Linked DNA regions of Homo sapiens. The protein of the gene in region 2 purifies or fractionates together with the protein of the main gene of each other region. This does not show direct contact. Each region holds a gene or a part of one and is shown on either strand. Other genes may lie near its edges.

The links.
Region 1: the proteins of ZNF136 (region 2) and ANKS3 purify together in Homo sapiens (affinity purification with mass spectrometry; one large-scale study listed by BioGRID and IntAct). This does not show direct contact.
Region 3: the proteins of ZNF136 (region 2) and SLC2A9 purify together in Homo sapiens (affinity purification with mass spectrometry; one large-scale study listed by BioGRID and IntAct). This does not show direct contact.
Region 4: the proteins of ZNF136 (region 2) and STAT4 purify together in Homo sapiens (affinity purification with mass spectrometry; one large-scale study listed by BioGRID and IntAct). This does not show direct contact.
Region 5: the proteins of ZNF136 (region 2) and SHCBP1 purify together in Homo sapiens (affinity purification with mass spectrometry; one large-scale study listed by BioGRID and IntAct). This does not show direct contact.
Region 6: the proteins of ZNF136 (region 2) and DHX32 purify together in Homo sapiens (affinity purification with mass spectrometry; one large-scale study listed by BioGRID and IntAct). This does not show direct contact.

Annotation. Positions count from the first base shown.
Region 1 is NC_000016.10:4,710,272-4,713,771, forward strand, and holds part of ANKS3 (ankyrin repeat and SAM domain-containing protein 3), read right to left. Parts: intron 1-3,500. UniProt on the Homo sapiens protein: May be involved in vasopressin signaling in the kidney.
Region 2 is NC_000019.10:12,169,596-12,173,095, reverse strand, and holds part of ZNF136 (zinc finger protein 136), read right to left. Parts: intron 1-3,500. UniProt on the Homo sapiens protein: May be involved in transcriptional regulation as a weak repressor when alone, or a potent one when fused with a heterologous protein containing a KRAB B-domain.
Region 3 is NC_000004.12:9,885,498-9,888,997, forward strand, and holds part of SLC2A9 (solute carrier family 2, facilitated glucose transporter member 9), read right to left. Parts: intron 2,146-3,500; coding exon 2,070-2,145; intron 1,406-2,069; coding exon of another isoform or gene 1,263-1,405; exon of another isoform or gene 1-1,262. UniProt on the Homo sapiens protein: High-capacity urate transporter, which may play a role in the urate reabsorption by proximal tubules. May have a residual high-affinity, low-capacity glucose and fructose transporter activity. Transports urate at rates 45- to 60-fold faster than glucose.
Region 4 is NC_000002.12:191,060,495-191,063,994, forward strand, and holds part of STAT4 (signal transducer and activator of transcription 4), read right to left. Parts: intron 2,427-3,500; coding exon 2,268-2,426; intron 1,328-2,267; coding exon 1,235-1,327; intron 1-1,234. UniProt on the Homo sapiens protein: Transcriptional regulator mainly expressed in hematopoietic cells that plays a critical role in cellular growth, differentiation and immune response. Plays a key role in the differentiation of T-helper 1 cells and the production of interferon-gamma.
Region 5 is NC_000016.10:46,600,880-46,604,379, forward strand, and holds part of SHCBP1 (SHC SH2 domain-binding protein 1), read right to left. Parts: coding exon 3,349-3,500; intron 3,265-3,348; coding exon 3,096-3,264; intron 2,781-3,095; coding exon 2,660-2,780; intron 1-2,659. UniProt on the Homo sapiens protein: May play a role in signaling pathways governing cellular proliferation, cell growth and differentiation. May be a component of a novel signaling pathway downstream of Shc. Acts as a positive regulator of FGF signaling in neural progenitor cells.
Region 6 is NC_000010.11:125,860,793-125,864,292, forward strand, and holds part of DHX32 (putative pre-mRNA-splicing factor ATP-dependent RNA helicase DHX32), read right to left. Parts: intron 1-3,500.

The DNA.
Region 1 (3,500 bases), on a different chromosome or scaffold from region 2:
TCACCTCGAAATGATAAATGTTTGAGGTGATGGATAAGCTAATCACCTTAATTTGATCATTACACAGTGTATACATGTATCAAAACATCACACACTGTACCCCATAAATATGTAGTTATTTTGTGTCAATTAAAAATGAGATAAATATTTTCCAGGTCAGGTGCAGTAGCTCATGCCTGTAGTCCCAGCACTTTGGGAGGCTGAGGCGGGTGGATTGCTTGAGCTCAGGACTCTTGAGACCAGCCTGGTCAACATGGCAAAACCACCTCTCTACAAAAAATACAAACGTAAGCTGGGCGTGGTAGGGTGCACCTACAGTCCTAGCTACTCGTAGAGCTGAGGTAGAAGGATCGTTTTGAGCCTGGGAGGCGGAGGTTGCATTGAGTCGAGATTGGGTCACTGGACTCCAGCCTGGGTGACAAAGCAAGACCCTGTCACAAAAAATAAATCAATATTTTCCATGCCAAAAAAAGATAATAACAGGAGAAAATAACCACTGAAACAGAGTATTTTATTTTGTTTTATTTTATCTATTTACTTTTCTTTGAGATGGAGTCTCGCTCTGTCGCCAAGCTGGAGTGCAGTGGCGTGATTTTGGCTTACTGCAATCTCCCCCTCCCGGGTTCAAGTGATTCTCCTGCCTCAGCCTCCAGAGTAGCTGGCGCACACCACCACATTGGCTTATTTTTGTATTTTTAGTGGAGACGGGGTTTCACCATGTTGGCCAGGCTGGTCTTGAACTCCTGACCTCAAGTGATCCACACGCCTCAGCCTCCCAAAGTGCTGAGATTACAGGCATGAGCCACTGCACCCAGCCTGAAACAGAATTTTTTTTTTTTTTTTTTTTTTGAGACAGAGTTTCGCTCTTGTTGCCTAGGCTGGACTGCAATGGCACGATCTCGGCTCACCTCAACCTCTGCCTCCCGGGTTCAAGGGATTCTCCCACCTCAGCCTCCCGAGTAGCTGGGATTACAGGCATGCACCACTACGCCCAGCTAATTTTATATTTTTAGTAGAGATGGGGTTTCTCCATACTGATCAGGCTGGTCTCGAACTCCCGACCTCAGGTGATCCGCCCAACTCGGCCTTCCAAAGTGCTGAGATTATAGGCATAAGCCACCGCGCCTGGCCCTGAAACAGAATATTTTAAAAGGAGAAAAAAATTGGCCGGGTGCGGTGGCTCACACCTATAATCCCAGTACTTTGGGAGGCCCAGGTGGGCAGACCACCTGAGGTCGGGAGTTTGAGACCAGCCCGGCCAACATGGAGAAACCCTGTCTCTACTAAAAACATAAAATTATCCAGGCATGGTAGCGCATGCCTGTAATCCCATCTACTTGGGACGCTGAGGCAGGAGAATCACTTGAACCCGGGAGGCAGAGGTTGCGGTGAGTCAAGATCGAGCCACTGCACTCCAGCCTGGGGAACAAGAGTGAAACTCTGTCTCAAAAAAAAAAAAAAAAAAAGGGAGAAAATATTATCTTGTAGACCTCTGCAGATAAGTCTGAAATCCTAGATGAAGTGATCTCTCAGGAAAATATAATTTACCAAAACTGACCCCATAAGAAAAGAAAGTATGAGGAGGCCAATCTCTATAGAAGAAATAGAAAAACTGTTATCGAGGAACCACCTCACAGAAAGAGACCAGATGGTTTCATGGGAGGATTCTATCAAAACTTCTAAGACCAGGTAGCACTAATGCTACGTGTATTGTCCTAGAACACAAAAAAGGAAGGAAAACTTCCAAATTATTTTTATGAAGTAAACACTGATACCCATACCTGATAGACAGAACAAAAATAGAAAAGTATAGACCACGCCGGGAGCGGTGGCTCACGCCTGTAATCCCAGCACTTTGGGAGGCTGAGGCAGGCGGATCACTGGAGATCAGGAGTTCGAGACCAGCCTGGCCAACATGGTGAAACCCCGTCTCTACTAAAAATACAAAAATTAGCTGGGTGTAGTGGTGCACGCCTGTGATCCCAGCTACTCGGGAGGCTGAGGCAGAAGAATTGCTTGAACTCAGGAGGCGGAGGTTGCGGAGGTTGCAGTGAGCTGAGATCTCGCCACTCCAGTCCAGCCTGGGCAACAGAGCAAGACTCCATTTCAAAAACAAAAAAAAAGAAGAAAGAAAACTATAGACCAGTATCACTTATGACTGAATATCCATAGAAAAATACTAAATATTAATAAACAGAATTCAAAAACACATTAAAATAGTACAACATGTGGGATTTATGCCAAGAATGTAAGGTTGATTCATTATTAGGAGGTTCATGAAGACAATCTACCATATGAAAATTCACCATCGTCTCCAAAGATATGGGAACACAATTCAATAGTTACTCCTGTAAAACACCACTCAGGAATAGAAGAACTGAGGAATACTTTGTTAATAAGCTAAAATAACATATGCCTTCCCTTTTACAGTCAGCCTCTCATGTAACGTGGCATTTCCACTAAGATCAGGACCAAGGTAAGGAGGCTCACTATCTCCACTATGTTGAACAATGAGCTAGAGGTGTTAGCAACTAAACAAAAGAACGGTGCAATTCAACAAAGTCAGAGTCATGAGAATCAGCAGGAAGCAGTGTATCCATCGATACTTAAAGATTATATGTTAGTACACCTGTAAAGCCCTAAAGAATCAATAACAAAACTAACCTGAACAATGTAAGAATTCTGTAAGGTAGCAGAATATAAAATTAGTTTGCAGGGCTGAGTGCAGTGGCTCACACCTGTAATCCCAGCACTTTGGGAGGCTGAGATGGGTGGATCACCTGAGGTTGCGAGTTCTAGACCAGCCTGACCAACATGGAGAAACCCCATCTCTACTGAAAATACAAAAAATTAGCCGGGCATGGTGGTGCACGCCTGTAATCCCAGCTACCTGGGAGGCTGAGGCAAAATTGCTTGAACCTGGGAGGAAGAGGTTGCGGTGAGGCAAGATCGCTTCATTGCACTCCAGCCTGAGCAACAAGAGCGAAACTCCCGTATCAAAAAAAAAACAAAAGTTTGCAGAAATCCACTGCCTTCAAATGCACTGACAATATGCAGTGAAACGATATAATGACACCACTAAAGGACTTATTCACGTATCCAACCACCACCTGTTCTCCAAAAACCTACTGAAATAAAAAATAAATAGCACTGAATAATTAATACCCTGAGAGTTGGGGGGAAAAAAAGGATATAATGATAGGGAAAACCCCATTTACAATAGCGACAAAGATGATCAAACACTTAGGAATAAACTTAAGTCACATGCAAAATGTAGATGAAGAAAAATTTAAAACCCTCCTGCAAGACCCAAAAGTACATTGGAACAAGAAGTCATCCCTTGTTCTTGGATAAGACAACAACACAAAGATATAGTTAATTTATACATTGTCACAATCTCAGTAAAAATATCAATACTGTTTTTAAGGAGCTAGACAAGTTGATATTCAAGTTCATATAGAAGAATGAACAAGCCATAGCTCAGGAAACAGTGAAAACAG
Region 2 (3,500 bases):
GTATGTGTCACAAATAGTTCCACCTACCTGCTGGCCTACAAGACATGCTACTCTCCTCTCTCCGGGAATTTTTTTGTTTTTTTTTGAGATGGAGTCTGGCTCTGTCGCCAGGCTGGAGTGCAGTGACGCAATCTCGGCTCACTGCAACCTCCGACTCCCTGGTTAAAGTGATTCTCTGGCCTCAGCCTCCCGAGTAGCAGGGATTACAGGCACGCACCATCACACCCAGCTCATTTTTGTATTTTTAGTAGAGACAGGGTTTCGCCATGTTGGCCAGGATGGTCTCGATCTCCTGACCTCGTGATCCGCCTGCCTCAGCCTCCCACAGTACTGGGATTACAGGCGTGAGCCACCACAGCCGGCCTCTGGGATTTATAAGTAATAAACTCCTTCTGTTATTTCCTGTGTTTGTTGAATTGTCTCCTCCGAGTCTCACCTAATTGCCTAACTGACACACCTGACTACTATTTGAACCTAACTACTATCATAATCGGGGCTCTCTTGGTAGGAACAGAGTGGTAGTGTTTATTAGCCACTAATAGATACCGGATTAGTGGCTACTCTAGTCTAGGATTAAACTGACAATGGTCAGACAAGATCTACAAGGTGCCTGCTTGTACAGAGCAAGTATAAACAAGTGTGCTGTGAGAGGGACACCTGGTCATGGGTATAACATCTAGGCATCAGGCCCTCCAACAGAATGAAGAAATATCCCTTGAAAGGCACATTTTAAATATCCTCCAAGAAATCCCCCAGAGCCACACCAGGACAGGGATAAAGTTTTAGCCAGTCTCCAGCTATAAACAAGATCAAATCAGAAAAACACAAACCTCTTAAAAACAAAAGCAGCCAGGCACAGTGGCTCACGTCTGTAATCCCAGCATGTTGGGAGGCCAAGGCAAGTAGATCACTTGAGGTCAGGAACCCTGTCTCTACTAAAACTACAAAAATTAGCCGGGCATGGTGGCTCACACCTGCGATCCCAGCTACTCGGAAGGCTGAAGCACTGGAAACACCTGACGCCAGGAGGCGAAGGCTGCAATGAGCCAACATCATGCCACTGCACTCCAGCCTGGGTGGCAGAGCGAGACTCTGTCTCCAAAAAAAAAAAAAAAAAGAGAGAGAGAGAAAATAAAAAATTTTAAAATTTTAAAAAGTAGCAAACTTTCATAAGTTACAATTTTTTTTCCAACTTGACAGTAGGGAGAGTGTTCTTTATTTAACCTGGGAGCACAGATTCAAGTTGCCCTAAATATACACTCTCTAGAATGTTCTCTTACAAGAAAATTAAGTAGGCCTGAAAGGAAGAGCCAAAGTCAACTCAATTAAAATCAAGAAGAGTACCCTTCCCCACCCTTGATGATGGTGCATGCAGAAGGCGGCCAAAAAAGCCAACAAACAAAAAAATTTAAGAGTCCATCAAAATGTAGAATGGAGTGAAAAGATAAATCACTCCCTGGAACAAAATATTAGCAATCCCTATAAATGAAAAAGAATTAGCCTACAGAGTAAGTTAAAAAAAGAAAAAAGGGAAGAAATGAAGCAATAAATATACAAATGACTTTAATGTGACAAGATGACTGAAAACTATTTTACAGAAGATGAAAGGCCACACAGAAAAAATGCTCAATCCTAGTGTAAAAAGCAACATGTAATCACACAGAGAAAAATAAAGAGAACTACTTATAAGGAGTAAATACACATGCATACATGGTCAGATGGTTAATCCATATATTCCATTGGCATTCCCAAGTCAATCTATCTATAAGCTACATCCCAGGGATTTTTTTTTCCAATGTATAAAAAACTTACAAAGCAGCCAGGTGCGGTGGCACACACCTGTAATCCCAGCACTTTGGGAGGCCGAGGCAGGCAGATCACGAGGTCAAGAGATCAAGACCATCCTGGCCAACATGGTGAAACCCCATCTCTACTAAAAATAAAAAAAATTAGCTGGGTGGGGCCTGGCGCAGTGGCTCATGCCTGTAATCCCAGCACTTTGGGAGGCCAAGGTAAGCAGATCACCTGAGGTCAGGAGTTCAAGACCAGCCTGACCAACATGGAGAAACCCTGTCTCTATTAAAAAAACAAAATTAGCCGGGCGTGGTGGTGCATGCCTATAATCCCAGCTACTCTGGAGGCTGAGGCAGGAGAATCACTTGAACCTGGGAAGCAGAGGTTGCAGTGAGCTGAGATTTTGCCATTGCACTCCAGACTGGGCAACAAGAGTGAAACTCCGTCTCAAAAAAAAAAAAAAAATTAGCTGGGTGTGGTGGCATGTGACTGTAATCCCAGCTACTTGGGAGGCTGAGGCAAGAGAATCACTTGAACCCAGGAGGCAGAGGTTGCAGTGAGCTGAGATCGCGCCACTGCACTCCAGCCTGGCCTGGCGACAGAGCGAGACTCCGTCTCGAAAAAAAAAAAAAAATTTATGAAGCATGGCTGGGCACAGTGGCTCATGCCTATAATCCCAGTGCTGAGCCCAAGGGTTTGAGTGCTGGGCAACATGGCAAGACCCCATCTCTATAAAAAAATACAACCATTAATCAGGCATGTGGCACACGCCTGTAGTCCCAGCTACTTGGGAGGGTGAGATGGAAGGATTGCTTGAGCCTGGGAGGCCAAGGTTGCAGTGAGCTGTGATTGCACCACTGCACTTCAGTCTGGGCAACAGAAGAAGACCTGCCTCAAAAAAAAAAAAAGAAGTTTATGAAGCATTAGCACTTGGAGACAAAAACAACAATTACATTGGCAACAGATAAAATACTAACAACTCAAATCAAGCAGTGGAATGGTTAGTAACCTGGGTGACCCACAGCCTCAGACAGCAGCATGTGTGCAACGGACTGAGGCAAAGAAACCACAAAAGGCCGGGCGCGGTGGCTCACGCCTGTAATCCCAGCACTTTGGGAGGCCAAGGTGGGTGAATCACAAGGTCAGGAGATTGAGACCACCCTGGCTAACACAGCGAAACCCCGTCTCTACTAAAAATACAAAAAAATGGCCGGGCGTGGTGGCTCACGCCTGTAATCCCAGCACTTTGGGAGGCCAAGGTGGGCAGATCACGAGGTCAGGAGATCGAGACCACCCTGGCTAACACAGTGAAACCCCGTCTCTACTAAAAATACAAAAAATTAGCCGGACGTGGTGGCAGGCGCCTGTAGTCCCAGCTACTTGGGAGGCTGAGGCAGGAGAATGGCGTCAACCCGGGAGGCAGAGCTTGCAGTGAGCCGAGATTACGCCACTGCACTCCAGCCTGGGGGACAGAGAGAGACTCTGTCTCAAAAAAAATAAAAATAAAAATAAAAATACAAAAAAATTAGCCGGGTGTGGTGGCGGGCGCCTGTAAGTCCCAGCTACTCGGTAGGCTGAGGCAGGAGAATCGCATGAACCCGGGAGGCTGGGCTTGCAGTGAGCCAAGATCGCTCCATTGCACTCTAGCCTGGGCAACAGAGCGAGAGTCCGTCTCAAAAAAAAAAAAAAAAATTCAGAATCAGTAC
Region 3 (3,500 bases), on a different chromosome or scaffold from region 2:
CTCCTCCAAGGTTTGTTTTGAAAAACCCTGCTGCCAGGGCAGGCTCCCGTGTTACGCTGCTCACAAAAGCACACATCTTCCCTGCCAGCCTTTGCTCAGTTATTTTATTCCCTCTCTAACAAGTACTTGTGGAGCCTTACTATGTCTTCAGCACAGTTCTAGGTTATCAGGATAAGATTGTGAACCACACACCAGGTCCTTTCATGGAGCTTATTTTCTAGCCTGGAGGAGACACACATTAAAGACAGACTGCAGCACACAGGCCGCATGCAGCCCACTGCCTGCTTTTGTAAATAAAGTTTTACTGGGACACAACCATGCAGTCCATTCATTTACTCGTTATCTATGGCTGTGTCCACACTACCATGGCAGAGGTGAGTAGTTGTGATAGAGAATGCATGGTCTGTGAAATAAAAGTATTTACACCTGGCCCTTTGCAGGAAAAATCTTCCCATGTCTGCATTAAACAAATGAGTACGCAGGAAACCAACATGCCTGTGAACAATGCTATGATGGGTGATGAGATAGAGGGTAGGTGTGCATGTGTGTGTGAGTGTATATAGTAAATGTGTGTGTGCTGGTTTTAGAATAAGTGGCCAGGAGAGGCCTCACTGAGCAGCTGACATCTCAGAGGGGACTTCCACACCAGAGGCAAGCCCCTCTGGGAGCAGAGACTGCTCCTGTCTGGTTTGCTCACGCATGTCCCCAGGCTAGCATAGGGCCGTAGGCTGGACACCTCCAGAGCACTGATGTGAAGATGTGGATGTGAGGTTGTGATGCAGATGCCCTGGAAGACTAAACACATTTACTCCTCGCGTCCACTGTAAACTACAACATGTGCTGTGTGTTCATCCTCTAATTCGCTGCCCTGCCTGGGAGGTGCTTGCTTTCTTTTTCTTGCAGCCGTTCTGACCACCCTCATAGCACTGTGTGTGTGTGTGTGTGTGTGTGTGTGTGTGTGTGTGTGTGTGTGTGTGCTGTGTGCATGTATGTGCACCTGATGCCCTCCCCAACCATTCCATGGCCCACCTTGCCACCTTGCCATCTTATTATAATATCCCGATGTCCTGAATGGACACTTTCCATCCACCATGAATGCAATAGAACCTGGAATGTAATGGCTTACGAGAATCAGCAACACAAAGGGAGAAACAGAAGTTCAGTTCCCTTTGTTCTGATAGAAACTTACTGTTTGCATCCACCAAGAAACACAACCAAAGAACAGCCATGAATATCATCCCATGAGAGAGCACATGGCTGTGTCAGACCCTGCCCTGAGCCCCCCTTCTCAGTCTGACCTTGGACTCTGCTGGAGGTCCCTGCTGGACGTGGACACAGGGCCAGGGAATGGTAGGGTCCTCAGTTGCATTGCATCCTTGTCGTTGTACAGATGGGGAAACTGAGGCTAACAAAGAGAAGAAGTCTCTCCTACTGACCCATGGCTAGGAAACAGCAGGGCTAGAAGTGAGTCCCAGGTAAACTGAGGCTGGGATACTCCAGCTGCACACTCACACAGCTACCATGTAAGCTGGTGGTTGGGGCCTGGGCCTGGCAGTCAGGCCACTCCACCTACTCGCTCATGCAAGTCACCTTCCATCTCTGTCTTCTTTGGCACTGTCCTGAGCCTTAAATGAGCTCACACAGGTCAAGTTCTTAGCCAAGTATAACACAAAATCAATGAACAATATGTCTTAGACATGATTATTGCCACATCTTTCACCATAGACGGTAACTGCTTAGGCACAGACTGTGACTTGGTTGTCTTTGATTCAACACAAACCAGTGTCACCTCTGGATCAGAGCCCTCCCGCGTATGAACTGCTCTTGCTGTGTGGTGGGAAATTATCTCCCACTCATCTTCAGGTGAGTCCACTTTCACCTTCTGTGGGATAGACTGCAGACAGTCGGCTACATTTAAATTGGGCCAAAAGAAAGGCAGCAGACACACATCCCCAGTCAGGCTTTGCTTCTTCTGGGCTCTGGGTTCCCCATCTGTATGAGGAGAGCCCCCCAGCTTGGTGATGCCATGAGTCCCTGGGCGGGGCAGTGGGGAGGGTGGGGTGCCTTACCTGGCCCACTGCAGAAAGAGGCGATGATGGCCAGAATGCCCACGATACTCAGGTAGGGGACCCAGGGGGCGTGGTCCTGGGAGAGAACAGGGAGTGGTCAGGTGAGGAGGTGATGGTGTGACCGGAGGACCTGAGTTCCCACCCCAGCTCCTCCTCCATCCATCTGTGTGACCTTGGACAGGTCACTTGATGTCCCCAAGCCCCAGCTTCAGCATCTATAACATGGGAACAATGATAACCCTTCGGTCACTCCATCTGCTTATTTTATAGCCATGATGAAATCAGATGAAGCCTGTGATGAGTTTGACATAGTCCTGGCATACAGGAAGTGGTAAATAAATCAATAACTCACATTGATTGAGGGCTTAGTTGGCATCAGGCAATATGAGCAATTTTCACAGCTTTATCACATTTATAAAAGTTCATCATTCTCAGCAAACTGACACAAGAACCGAAAACCAAACCCCACATGTCTCACTCATAAGTGGGAGTTGAACAATGAGAACACATGGACACAGGGAGGGGAACATCACATGCTGGGGCCTGTTTTGGGGGGTGGGGGGCTGGAGGAGGGATAGCATTAGGAGAAACACCTAATGTAGATGATGGGTTGATGGGTGCAGCCAACCACCATGGCACATGTATACCTATGTAACAAACCTGCACGTTCTGCACATGTATCCCAGAACTTAAAGTATATATATACATATATATATATATATGTATATATATGAATGTTTCCTCATATACATTTTAAAGGCTTCTATATTTTGCTTAAAAGAAGTTATCTTAGTTCTGATATTATTACATAAAGGACCTTATTTGTACCCCTGCCATCTTGCAAGGTGTGAGATGCGTTAATTCATTTCATGGAATATGTCTGGAGAAGCTGTCACTCATCCGGGGGGTGGGTGGCTTGGTGCTGGTTGGGATTGCTCCTGCTCTAGCAGACTGGACAGCTGAGCATTAGAACACAGTGTCACCAGTTCTGAATCTGTGGGGGTGCCAGGGCTGCCCCAGGAGAGGCCACCTGACTTGAAGGGAAGGTAAGAGCCTGCGTTCATCTCTGTAGGCTGAGCCAGAGTCAGCCCAGTGGGAAAGGAAAGGAAAGAGGTTCCAGTAGGGGGTTCAGCATACACAAGGGCATAGAATCCTAAGAGGGCACCATCGGCGGGGGGGTAAGCTGCAAACAGTCTGGAGTGGAGGGCGAGGGGTACAGAGGGCAGACAGAGGAATGGGGAACTCCCTCCTTCCCCTTGTTCTATGTCCAAATCCATTAGCTTTAGGGGTTGAGAGGAGCTTCATGGACTCTTGTACACTGTATGGCTTGCTTCTGTACCAAGTCACTCACTCACTCACTAATTCAGCTGATTGATCCGAGCTGCCCCTGGGTGCCAGGCACTGGGATGGGAGGTGGAAATGCAGATATGG
Region 4 (3,500 bases), on a different chromosome or scaffold from region 2:
TGCAACCTCTACCTACTGGGTTCAAGCGATTCTCCTGCCTCAGCCTCTTAAGTAGCTGGGATTACAGGCATGAGCCAACATGCTCAGCTAATTTTTCTATTTTTAGTAGAGATGGGGTATTGCCATGTTGTCCAGGCTGGTCTTGAACTCCTGACCTCAGGTGATCTGCCTTCCTCAGGCTCCCAAAGTGCTGGGATTATAGGCGTGAGCCACCATGCCTGGCCAACAGTGCAATTTAAAAAGGAACCTGGCCTCTGCCTTTTGTTTTCAGTTCTTAAATCTTGGTGCAAAATTCATACAAAGAAACTGATTAAGAAGTTAATGGTGTCTTAAAAATGCAAACCGAAGACAAATGCCTTCTCTTTAAAAATGGAGTTCCAATAGTGATATGTGATCAGCAACCTTATCATAGAACCCTAAACTGCTCTGTACCATGGCATCACCACCTCTTGACCTGTTAGTCTGTGGTTTCAGCTTTCCAGAGGTGACCTAGTGATTAGGCCTTTAAAACTTTAGTGCTTGGAGTTTCAGGCATGATGAGAACCTTTGAAAGTAAGAACTCAAACTCATTGTTCTCAGCATCATTAGGGAAAACTGTAAGTTTTGACGCTAATGCTAATAGGATCAAATTCACAGAGAAAGCAACAATAACACAAAAGTTATGTCTTTAAATCAGGTACACAATAGGGACATATGGAAAACTGTGGTATTGGGAGTTTTTGTGGAAAGTCTAATAAGCCAGTTACTGGGTAATCTCAGGAGATGAATGTGCCACTGTGTTTCCTGGATAGGATATTCAAAGCCTTCCAGAATCTGTCCCCAATCTGTCCTCTCAATTCTGTCTCTTCCCTGCTCCCCACGATTACCAGACAGAGCCAGGAAGCCATTATTTCTGTATTCTCACTCTCCTACAATCCTCCTCCCCTCTCCCAATCTCTCCAGTCTTTTCTCAAGTCAACCTTTTCAGCAATTAATTTCATTGTGCCTGATATTATGATTCCATACTTTCAGGCTAATATCCCTTATGTCCTCATCTGCACTGTCATGCTCTTGACAAGCAGGGCTCTCATCTTCACATTTCTGTGGGTATTTCCCCAAGCTCAGAGCTGGGCACACAGCAGATGGTTCAATAAAGAACAGCTGAATGCAAGCCACAATGAGAGAAATTGGCCTTGATCATCCAGAGACTATAGCTCCACAAACACACGAAATAGTAGAAAATGTTTTTGCCTACCTTAGTTTTACAGTGAACTGAATTAGGGTTTTAAGTACCAACGGCCTCTGAGGGTGGGTTGGCATACATGGCTGTCGCTCAACCACAAATGAGCTAGATGAAAAGGAAATAAAGCGCATCATTTGAAAACACTGAAAATATTGAGACTGAAAACCACAGAGGAACAGGATGCTATCCACTCAAAGTCCAAATTTTCTACACTTAGAAGATATTCAAACCCCCAATTAAACTCAAATCTTTACAATGACTTTTTATAAATCATTTCACAGCAGTAAATGATTCTTAATTGTTATAATTGAGTCATGAATAAAAGCCCCAGTCCATTTAGTAATTTTTTTTTCTTTTGAGAAGGGTCTCCCTCTGTTGCCCAGGCTGAAGTGCAGTGGCACGATCATAGCTCACTGCAGTCTCAACCTCCTGAGCTCAAGTGATCCTCCTGCCTTGGCCTCCTGAGTATCTAGGACTATAGGGATGTGCCACCATGCCTGGATACATTTTTTATTTTTCTGTAGAGATGGGGGTCTTTTTATGCTGTCCAGGCTGTTCTACAACTCCTGAGCTCAAGCAACCCCTTGCCTCAGCCTCCCAAGGTGCTGAGATTACAGGTGTGAGCCACCATACCTGGCCAAAAATAAATTTCATGACTTTTTTTGGACTAAATATTAGGATTTCTGGTACATATTAGTATTTTTTCTTTAGCTTATAAACATGAAAATGTTCTCCATCCTTCATTTCATGGATATGCACATAAGAAAAAACCCTTGAAATTTTTTCTAAGATGTGAAAACTGAGCTGTAGGTGAATGACATGACTTAGCTTGTGGAAAACTGAGCCAGTTGGTGAGAGAAGTGTTGATGAATAAATAGTGAAGAGTAGAAATGTGGTTTCTAAAACTTTCTGGGGTTCTATTCACTTCTCCCTGAGGCTCGTTGTTGAATACTTCCCTGCCACTCTTCCACCTAAACACCAAAACCTTAGGAAGGGTGTTCTTACTTCACAGAATGGAGGATGCCATTGATAGCACTTCACTTACTTCTTGAAAAGGTTGTAGATCAAGAAGGTGACTCTTTCTAGCATGTGAGTTCTTTGCATTGGAATGGGATCACCTTCATATGTCATTTTGGTAGATTGCTCCTCTAGTTTCTCCAATTGCCTTCTCAGTTGGAAAAGACTTTCTGCCAATAGTGTAAAGCTATTGAACAGAAAATGAAAATCAAAGATAGTTTTTCCACTTAATAATAAAAAAGCATTGTAACAATGGGTCATAGTTAATAAACATTAAATTATTAAGTAATTATTAAATTAATTAAATGAATCACTTAATTTGATTTAGGTTAGAGACAGTTTTTATTTTTATTTTCCTAACCCATTTTTTTCTTGAATATGCATATGTTAAATGTTTTCAATGTTTTCTTATTTAAACCTTCAATTATATATGTCATCATTTATGAAATTTTATCAACATTTGGAACTAAATCCCTTTTAATCATTCTTTGTTTAAGCTTATTAAGCATCTATATGTTAAAAATGTGGCGCTCACTAAAGGGCAAAAAAAGAGCAAATTTAAAGCCATAAAAAAATGCCATGATTAATGTTTTCTTATGTAAGCATACTGAAAGAAAAACATATGTAACCGATCTTCCCACACAATATATATTTTTACAAGTCCTAAGTACTAGCCAAAAGTGATCAATGACTCTCTTTAGAGTAAGGTATATTTAGAAATGCTTGCCTCTGATAACTGCTTGGAATTTTATTCACTATGTGGTGATCTCACCTCAGAAACGGAGGTGGCAGTGTGGGCCAGAAGCCTAGGAAAGAGTAAGATTGAAATGGACACGGAAGGGACTTCCAACCACAGGAGACAGAACATCTTATCAGACTTGGAAAGTCCACCTCGCCATACAGTAACTCTTTCTACTTTAAGTATTCCACATATAAGACTATGGCAAGAGTGGTTGAATCCCTGCTGATTTGGGGTATGAGCTCCATTATAGGTTAAGATCTTTATTGCTCCCTTTATTATTGTTTTCACAACAGAGTACAGTGAGTTGTAAAATCAAAGTGTCTTCCCAAGGAAAATCAATGTTTTAAAATGAGTCAAACTCCTTACATTTCTTGACAAGTAGGCCTGGCAGGGCAGAGCTTTTAGTGAGGGGGTCCCCAGTTACTACATATTCCATTGTTTTGACTTGTTCTCTTAAGAATCAATTTTAGATTTTAACTGAACAGTTTCTTTCTTTTTCATATTTTCCAATTGTTCCTT
Region 5 (3,500 bases), on a different chromosome or scaffold from region 2:
TGTGCCTGTAATCCCAGCTTCTCAGGAGGCCGAGGTGGGAGAATTGCTTGAACCTGGGAGGCGGAGATTGCAGTGAGAGGAGATCGTGCCACTGCACTCCAGCCTGGGTGACAGTGACTCTGTCTCAAAAAAAAAGCATCAGATCTCAGTGAGGTGCAGTGGCTCACGCCTATAATCCTAGCACTTTGGGAGGCCAGGGCAGGTGGATCACTTGAGGTCAGGAGTTCGAGACCAGCCTGGCCAACATGGAGAAACCCTGTCTCTACTAAAACTACAAAAATTAGCCAGGCATGGTGGCAGGCACCAGTAATCCCAGCAACTCAGGAGGCTGAGCCAGGAGAATCGCTTGAACCCAGGAGACAGAGGCTGCAGTGAACTGAGATCACACCACTGCACTCCAGCCTGGGCGACAGAGCAAGACTCCACCTCAAAAAAACAAAAACAAAAAAACCATCAGATCTGTATAAATCTTACTCAAACCATTAATGCAAGCCAAACACCTGAGTGGGCTTACAAAAAACTAGAGTATCAGAAAACTAAAGAATTCGCTTGACTTCCATTATAAAACAGAACCACATAGACAAAGCTGTAAGAAATAACTCTCATTGACTAAAGACGAATCTTTGAGTAAATGAAAGCAGTAACTGTTTTTAACAAGCAAAGCCGCTCAATGTATCTACACTGGAAGAGGACAAACAAGGCTTTGGGGGCCCTAGAGAATGCAAGGGGACTCCACACACTGGAATGCTACCAGGGGTGGACTCTGGATGCCTGAATTATGAGTGATTTTGTTTCTGATTGTTGTATGTATCTGACTGTACTTGGCATATTTTCTACAATAACCATTGCTTTTTATCATCAGAAAAATTAAAAGTACAAAAAGAATTGCATATTGAGAAAAGATTTTTACACAAATTTTTATATAATTATGTATTTCTTTCCACTTAAAACATAAAACCATTACCTAAATGAATGGATTTTCAAAACAAGAAAGAAAAACCCTATTGTAAGTACTATTGACACCCTGCACATAGTAGGTACTCAATATATATCTCTTGTTATATTGGTTAGCTATAGATCACTATCAGATGAGCTTGAATCTTACTCATGAACACTCCATATATGCACACTAGAGATACCTTGTGATTCCCCAATTCTCAGACCCATACTGTTAGTCAATATACAGCCATTTTTATACTTAACTATCAGCATTCTATATGTCCATTTATGACACTCTGGCAATTACATTAAAATTTCCTCACCAATCTAGGAAGAACTCTTATCTACCATACAAACTATAATATCAGTGTTATTTCCACTATGCCAAAAAATAAAGTGTTTTTATCACAGTGATTTATCTTGCAGATGTGTTATTTATATACACACATCTATTATACATCAAAAATTGGAGAGTAGAAAAGAACAAAAATTACACACATAAAATAAAAAAGGGGGTGAGATGATGTACTAGGAACAGGAGAAAACTAAACTTCCAGCTTCAGTTCCATTTAGAAGTACTGACAAGATAAAGAGCATAGCTTAAGCAGTTTCTGAACAGCTGCACAAGTCCCAAAATGATATATGATTTTTTGCATTACAAGCTTCACTGCTAACTTGAAGCTATTTTGATAAATAGTTGAACAGGTGTAACTAAATTTGACATGTTATGAAAATATACAGGACCAAGATGAACAATTGTAAAGTAACCTAAATTTAGAAATCACTCTAAATGAACAATAAGATTATAACTGTGAAAAAGTTATTTTTTTTAGACAGAGTCTTGCTCTGTCACCCAGGCTGAAGCATAGTAGTATGATCTTGGCTCATTGCAACCTCCACCTCCCAGGTTCAAGCGATTGTTCTGCCTCAGCCTCCCAAGTAGCTGGGATTACAGGCGTGCAACAACATGCCCGGCTAATTTTTGTATTTTTAGTACCGACGGGGTTTCACCATGTTAGCCAGACTGGTCTCAAACTCCTGGCCTCAAGTGATCTGCCCACCTCGGCCTCCCAAAGTGCTGGGATTACAGGCGTAAGCCACCACACCCAGCCCAAAAAGTTATTTTTAATAGAATCTTTCAACATTAATCTTTTCTAAAGTATACTTTGGTCAAGACACAAAGTGTAGCATTTGTGACATTCGGCAAGCATTTAGAGAATTAAGATAATTGGTACCAATTTCAAGTTAAATGCCCTTCATTATACCTCTCACGAAAATAAGCTAAGTGTGAAACAAAAAACAAAAAGCCATGCACTAACATATCTGCAACATCTATGAGATAAGAGCAAGCAACAAATTTTTAAAATACTAAAATTTTTAAAAATATTGCTAGGAATTTTTTTTTAATTCTAGAAATTAGATTTCCTTTCCATAAACCACCTACAATCTGGAAAGTATGCTTCTTCCTAATGGTCTTTTTTCTATATGAGCCTGTGAACATCTCCCCAACATACACACTGCTACAAAGAACCACAACTCAAATTGCTGAAACACTGGGTCAACCTCTTTTCAGCTTTCCATGTCCTTAATGTTTCAAGGCAGCTCACTAGAAATCAAATGGGTTCAAATCACATTCTTGGAGTTTCAACAAGATTGGTGATTTATTGTTTACTTAAACATATCACGTGTGAGAGTTTGGTTGTGTGTCTTCCATACTCACCTTCCAACTCAATGGAGTCAGCAATGGAGAAAGTGCCATGTACCACATAATGGCCAGGACAAACAATAACAGTGTCACCTTCGAAGCAGGCATTTATAGCAGACAATGGATCACTATGGAACTAGAAAACAATAAGAACACATTTGTAAATATACACTCCCAAAAAAGTAATTTGAGTATTACTCTAGGTGACTTCATGTCTTACTTTGAAAATGGAAGCCAAAAACTGCATATTGAAGCATCTCCTTTGATAGCGCACTGACCTAACACATGCCTGGTAAGTGACTACTGCTGATGAAAGGCAGGGCTCTCACTACTTCCCATGCACAGAAAACCGTCTTGGGAAAGCTCCTGTAAATACTTTGTGGGATTTGTGAAAACCTGTGGTGAATCAGAAGGAAAAAAAGCCACCTGGAGTGAGAAACTCTCCGTTTACCTGAATTTCTCTTTCTTCCTCACCAGGCTCCTGGCAAAGCCTGTCCGTAAGCAGGGACCGCAGGAGACCAGCCATCATGGTGGAGGAGACCACATGAGTGATCTTCTGACCGCTGGAACGGACACCCTTTGCTTGGATGTTAGAATTCTTCTGATAACCAAACACATACCTTAAAGAAACGAAACAGGCCTATCAGTAAGACAGCAAGTAAGAAAAGATGCTGACTAACTAAGAATTACAAAGACACACATACCTCAACAAAGGATTCTCAATGAGTTTCAGCTTTTGTTTCAACTGTTCCATCTCCGAATACAATTTTAACCCTTCCACCATGGAGATATTTTCCTGCTCGGAATCAGAGTTACAATTTGACAAACTGCTTCTCAGATTTAAAAATTTCCTGTA
Region 6 (3,500 bases), on a different chromosome or scaffold from region 2:
TCGCCCAGGCTGGAGTGCAGTGGCGCAATCTCGGCTCACTGCAAGCTCCGCCTCCCGGGTTCACGCCATTCTGCCTCAGCCTCCAGAGTAGCTGGGACTACAGGCGCCCGCCACCACGCCTGGCTAATTTTTTGTATTTTTAGTAGAGACAAGATTTCACCGTGTTAGCCAGGATGGTCTCGATCTCCTGACCTTGTGATCCAGCCACCTTGGCCTCCCAAAGTGCTGGGATTACAGGCGTGAGCCACCGCGCCCGGCCCCAATCCCATATGTTTTTTACCCATTTAAGGTATTTACTTTTATTTATTCTTGTACATGGCAATTCTGAGATTGCTATCCTTCGACAGGCCTGCCTGCAAGGTTAGCCCTTGGCTAGCATTTGGGAACTTAGATTTGGGGAGGGTCCTCACCATTCCCAGAACTGATAAAGAGTAGTTTGCCCCGCCTGTAATCCCAGCACTTTGGGAGGCCGAGGCAGGCGGATCACAAGGTCAGGATATCGAGACCATCCTGGCTAACGCGGTGAAACCCCGTCTCTACTAAAAATACAAAAAATTAGCCGGGAGTAGTGGCGGGCGCCTGTAGTACCAGCTACCCGGGAGGCTGAGGCAGGAGAATGGCGTGAACTGGAGAGGCGGAGCTTGCAGTGAGCCGAGATTGCGCCAGGGCACTCCAGCCTGGGCGACAGAGCGAGACTCCCCCAGAAAAGAGTAGTTTGCTGTGCCTGAACCATTTGTACAGGCAATATGTTTTACGCTGCACATGTGCTTTCCTTCTGGGAGTCTGGAATTTTGAAACATACTAGGCAGAGGGTGCCTCTACGGCCAGCCCTCAATAAAAACCCTGGGCACTGAGCCTGAGTTTCCCTGGTAGGGCACCATTTCACGAGCTGTGAATGAAGTGCACGGTTTGTGACTTCACTGGGCGAGAGCTCGTGAGCTTGCGCCTGGGTTCCTGTAAACTTCGTCCCATCCACTATTTCCCTTTGCTGATGTTGCTTTGTATCTTTTCAATGCAATAAACCTTAGTTATATGTAAATAATATGCTGAATCCCATGAACCTTTCTAGCAAATCACTGAACCCGGGGGTAGTCTTGGGGATCTTGACACAGTCCTCAATTAACCTCTTTCAAGGAAAAAAAAAAAAAGGAAGTAAACAAACATCTATTAAGCACCTAGTGTGAGCCAGTCACTAAGCTGGTGTATATGTTTCTCATTTAATCTTCAGAATAAATCTTCAAAGTAGATATTGCTATCCCATTACTATGACTCATTTATAAATGAGAAAACTGAAGGTCAGAAAAATTCAGTACCCTGCCCAAGGTCACAAAGCCAGGTAGAGAGTCAAGATTTAAACCCAGATAGTTGTTCTATCTGTTGTCACTGTCAAATTATAACGATTGCTTCCTTGGCCTTGTAGTTTTGGTGATAAAAGTCCATGTTCTTCCTCTCTGGATCTTTATGAGATCAAAGTGTATGCCCTCTGCCTTTCTTTTCATACAGGTTCTCATCCTGTGTCTTTCAAATGAGCAGTGATAAATTGATGATTCCTTTCCTCAAACTTAGAAAATAAAGCATCTTGAATACTATAGTATTATACTTTGTGCAAGATGCCAACAGATGCATTGAAATCTAGTTTTCAATTTTTTTTTTTTTGCTGAGGCTAATTAGAGATTTAATTTCTAATGTTATCTCTGTTTCCTTTTCAGCAAAACTCACCTAAGCACTGATCTTATAGGAAGTAATGCTGCCCCATAAGATTGAGGAGGTTTATGTGTTATGTAAATACATCTAGGCTTAATTAAAAAAAAGAGAAGATGCTAACTTATTAAAAACTCCAGCAGACTCATCCAGCAAGGCCTAGCCTTACAGATGATTATATAAGGGAATTGTGAAGGCTCAATCCTAAAACTTACTATACAAACCCACATTTTTCTGCAGTCCCACCTACTTGGGAGGCTGAGGTGGGAGATCACTCCAGCCCAGGAGGAGTCCCACATTACAGTGAGCTATGATCCCACAACTGCATCCCAGTCTGTGCAATGTGAGCAAGGCTCCAACTCAAAACAAAGCAAAAAAAAAAACTACTTTTTTTCTATATAACACAAAGATATGTTTCTGAACTTTATGGTAATGAGATATTGTGTGTATGATACTTTAAAAAGTGCTGTTAACTAATAAGTACGTAAAAAAAATAGATACACTACCAAGGTTTCAGGAAATGCAGTTTATATCTTTAAATTAAGGCTAAATTTCTAAAAGCTAAGACTATAATAAAATAAAGTTTTATTAATATTTATATTTTATAAAATTATATAATTGAGTTTAACCTTAATGAAAATTTGAGAATTTTCCAGTTCTAAAAACAGAAAAGACCACCATTTGACACTATGAGTCACTTCTATGAGATATCTTGATATGTAGTTCCTAAAGACTATTTTAGGTATATAATATTCAGGTATTCACTGTTTCAAAAAAGGCCAGAGAAAAGCTTAAAGAAGAACAAAGTTGTTACATATAGCATCCAAAAAATAGTAGTAGGCTTAAAGACAGTTTACTAATTGCCTATGATGTGTTTGATAGATACTAAGGGGCTACCAAAAAAATGAAAAAGACAGTATCAAATATAGACTACTGCCTTCTATAATCAATGATCAATTTTTTTTTTTTTTTGAGATGGAGTCTCACTCTGTTGCCCAGTCTGGAGTGCAGTGGCATGATCTCGGCTCACTGCAAGCTCTGCCTCCTGGGTTCACGCCATTCTCCTGCCTCAGCCTCCTGAGCAGCTGGGACTATAGGCACCTGCCACCACTCCCAGCTAATTTTTTTTGTATTTTTAGTAGAGACGGGGTTTCACCATGTTAGCCAGGATGGTCCCGATCTCCTGACCTTGGGATCTGCCCGCCTTGGCTTCCCAAAGTGCTGGGATTACAGGCGTGAGCCACCGTGCCCGGCCAATCAATGATCAATGTTAAATCCTCTGATTTAAATAGCTATTCAATCTGAGCTTATTCAAAATTATGGCTAGCATACCTCTTCAGGAAAATCAATCTTGTTCTAATCATAATTATAAAAATATAATTATAAACATAGCTACCACATACATACACCATGCATCAGTTACATAAATTTAATAGTCCTCACAACAACCCTCAGAGCAAGTATATTAATCGTCCACATTTTTCAGATGAGGCAACTTAAAGGTCAAAGAGGTTAGGTGACTTCTATAAGGTTACAAGTGAGTAAGTGGTGGAGACACCCTTTGACAGCCATGTTGCCTCCTCTCCAGAGCATGGAATACCAGGAAGAAAACAGGTGTTGCTTTATTTTATCATAGGGGTCTTTTCAATAGCTCTGGCCTCTTTCCTGTGACTCAAACACTGTTTACCACAATGCATCAGAGTATCTTCTGACTCTGCGCTGGTTCTGGGGGCATGTCACAGTGGAAAAGAAAGTACAATGTTCAGAAGCAAGAGTAACTGTGAAGTGAAGATATGAAA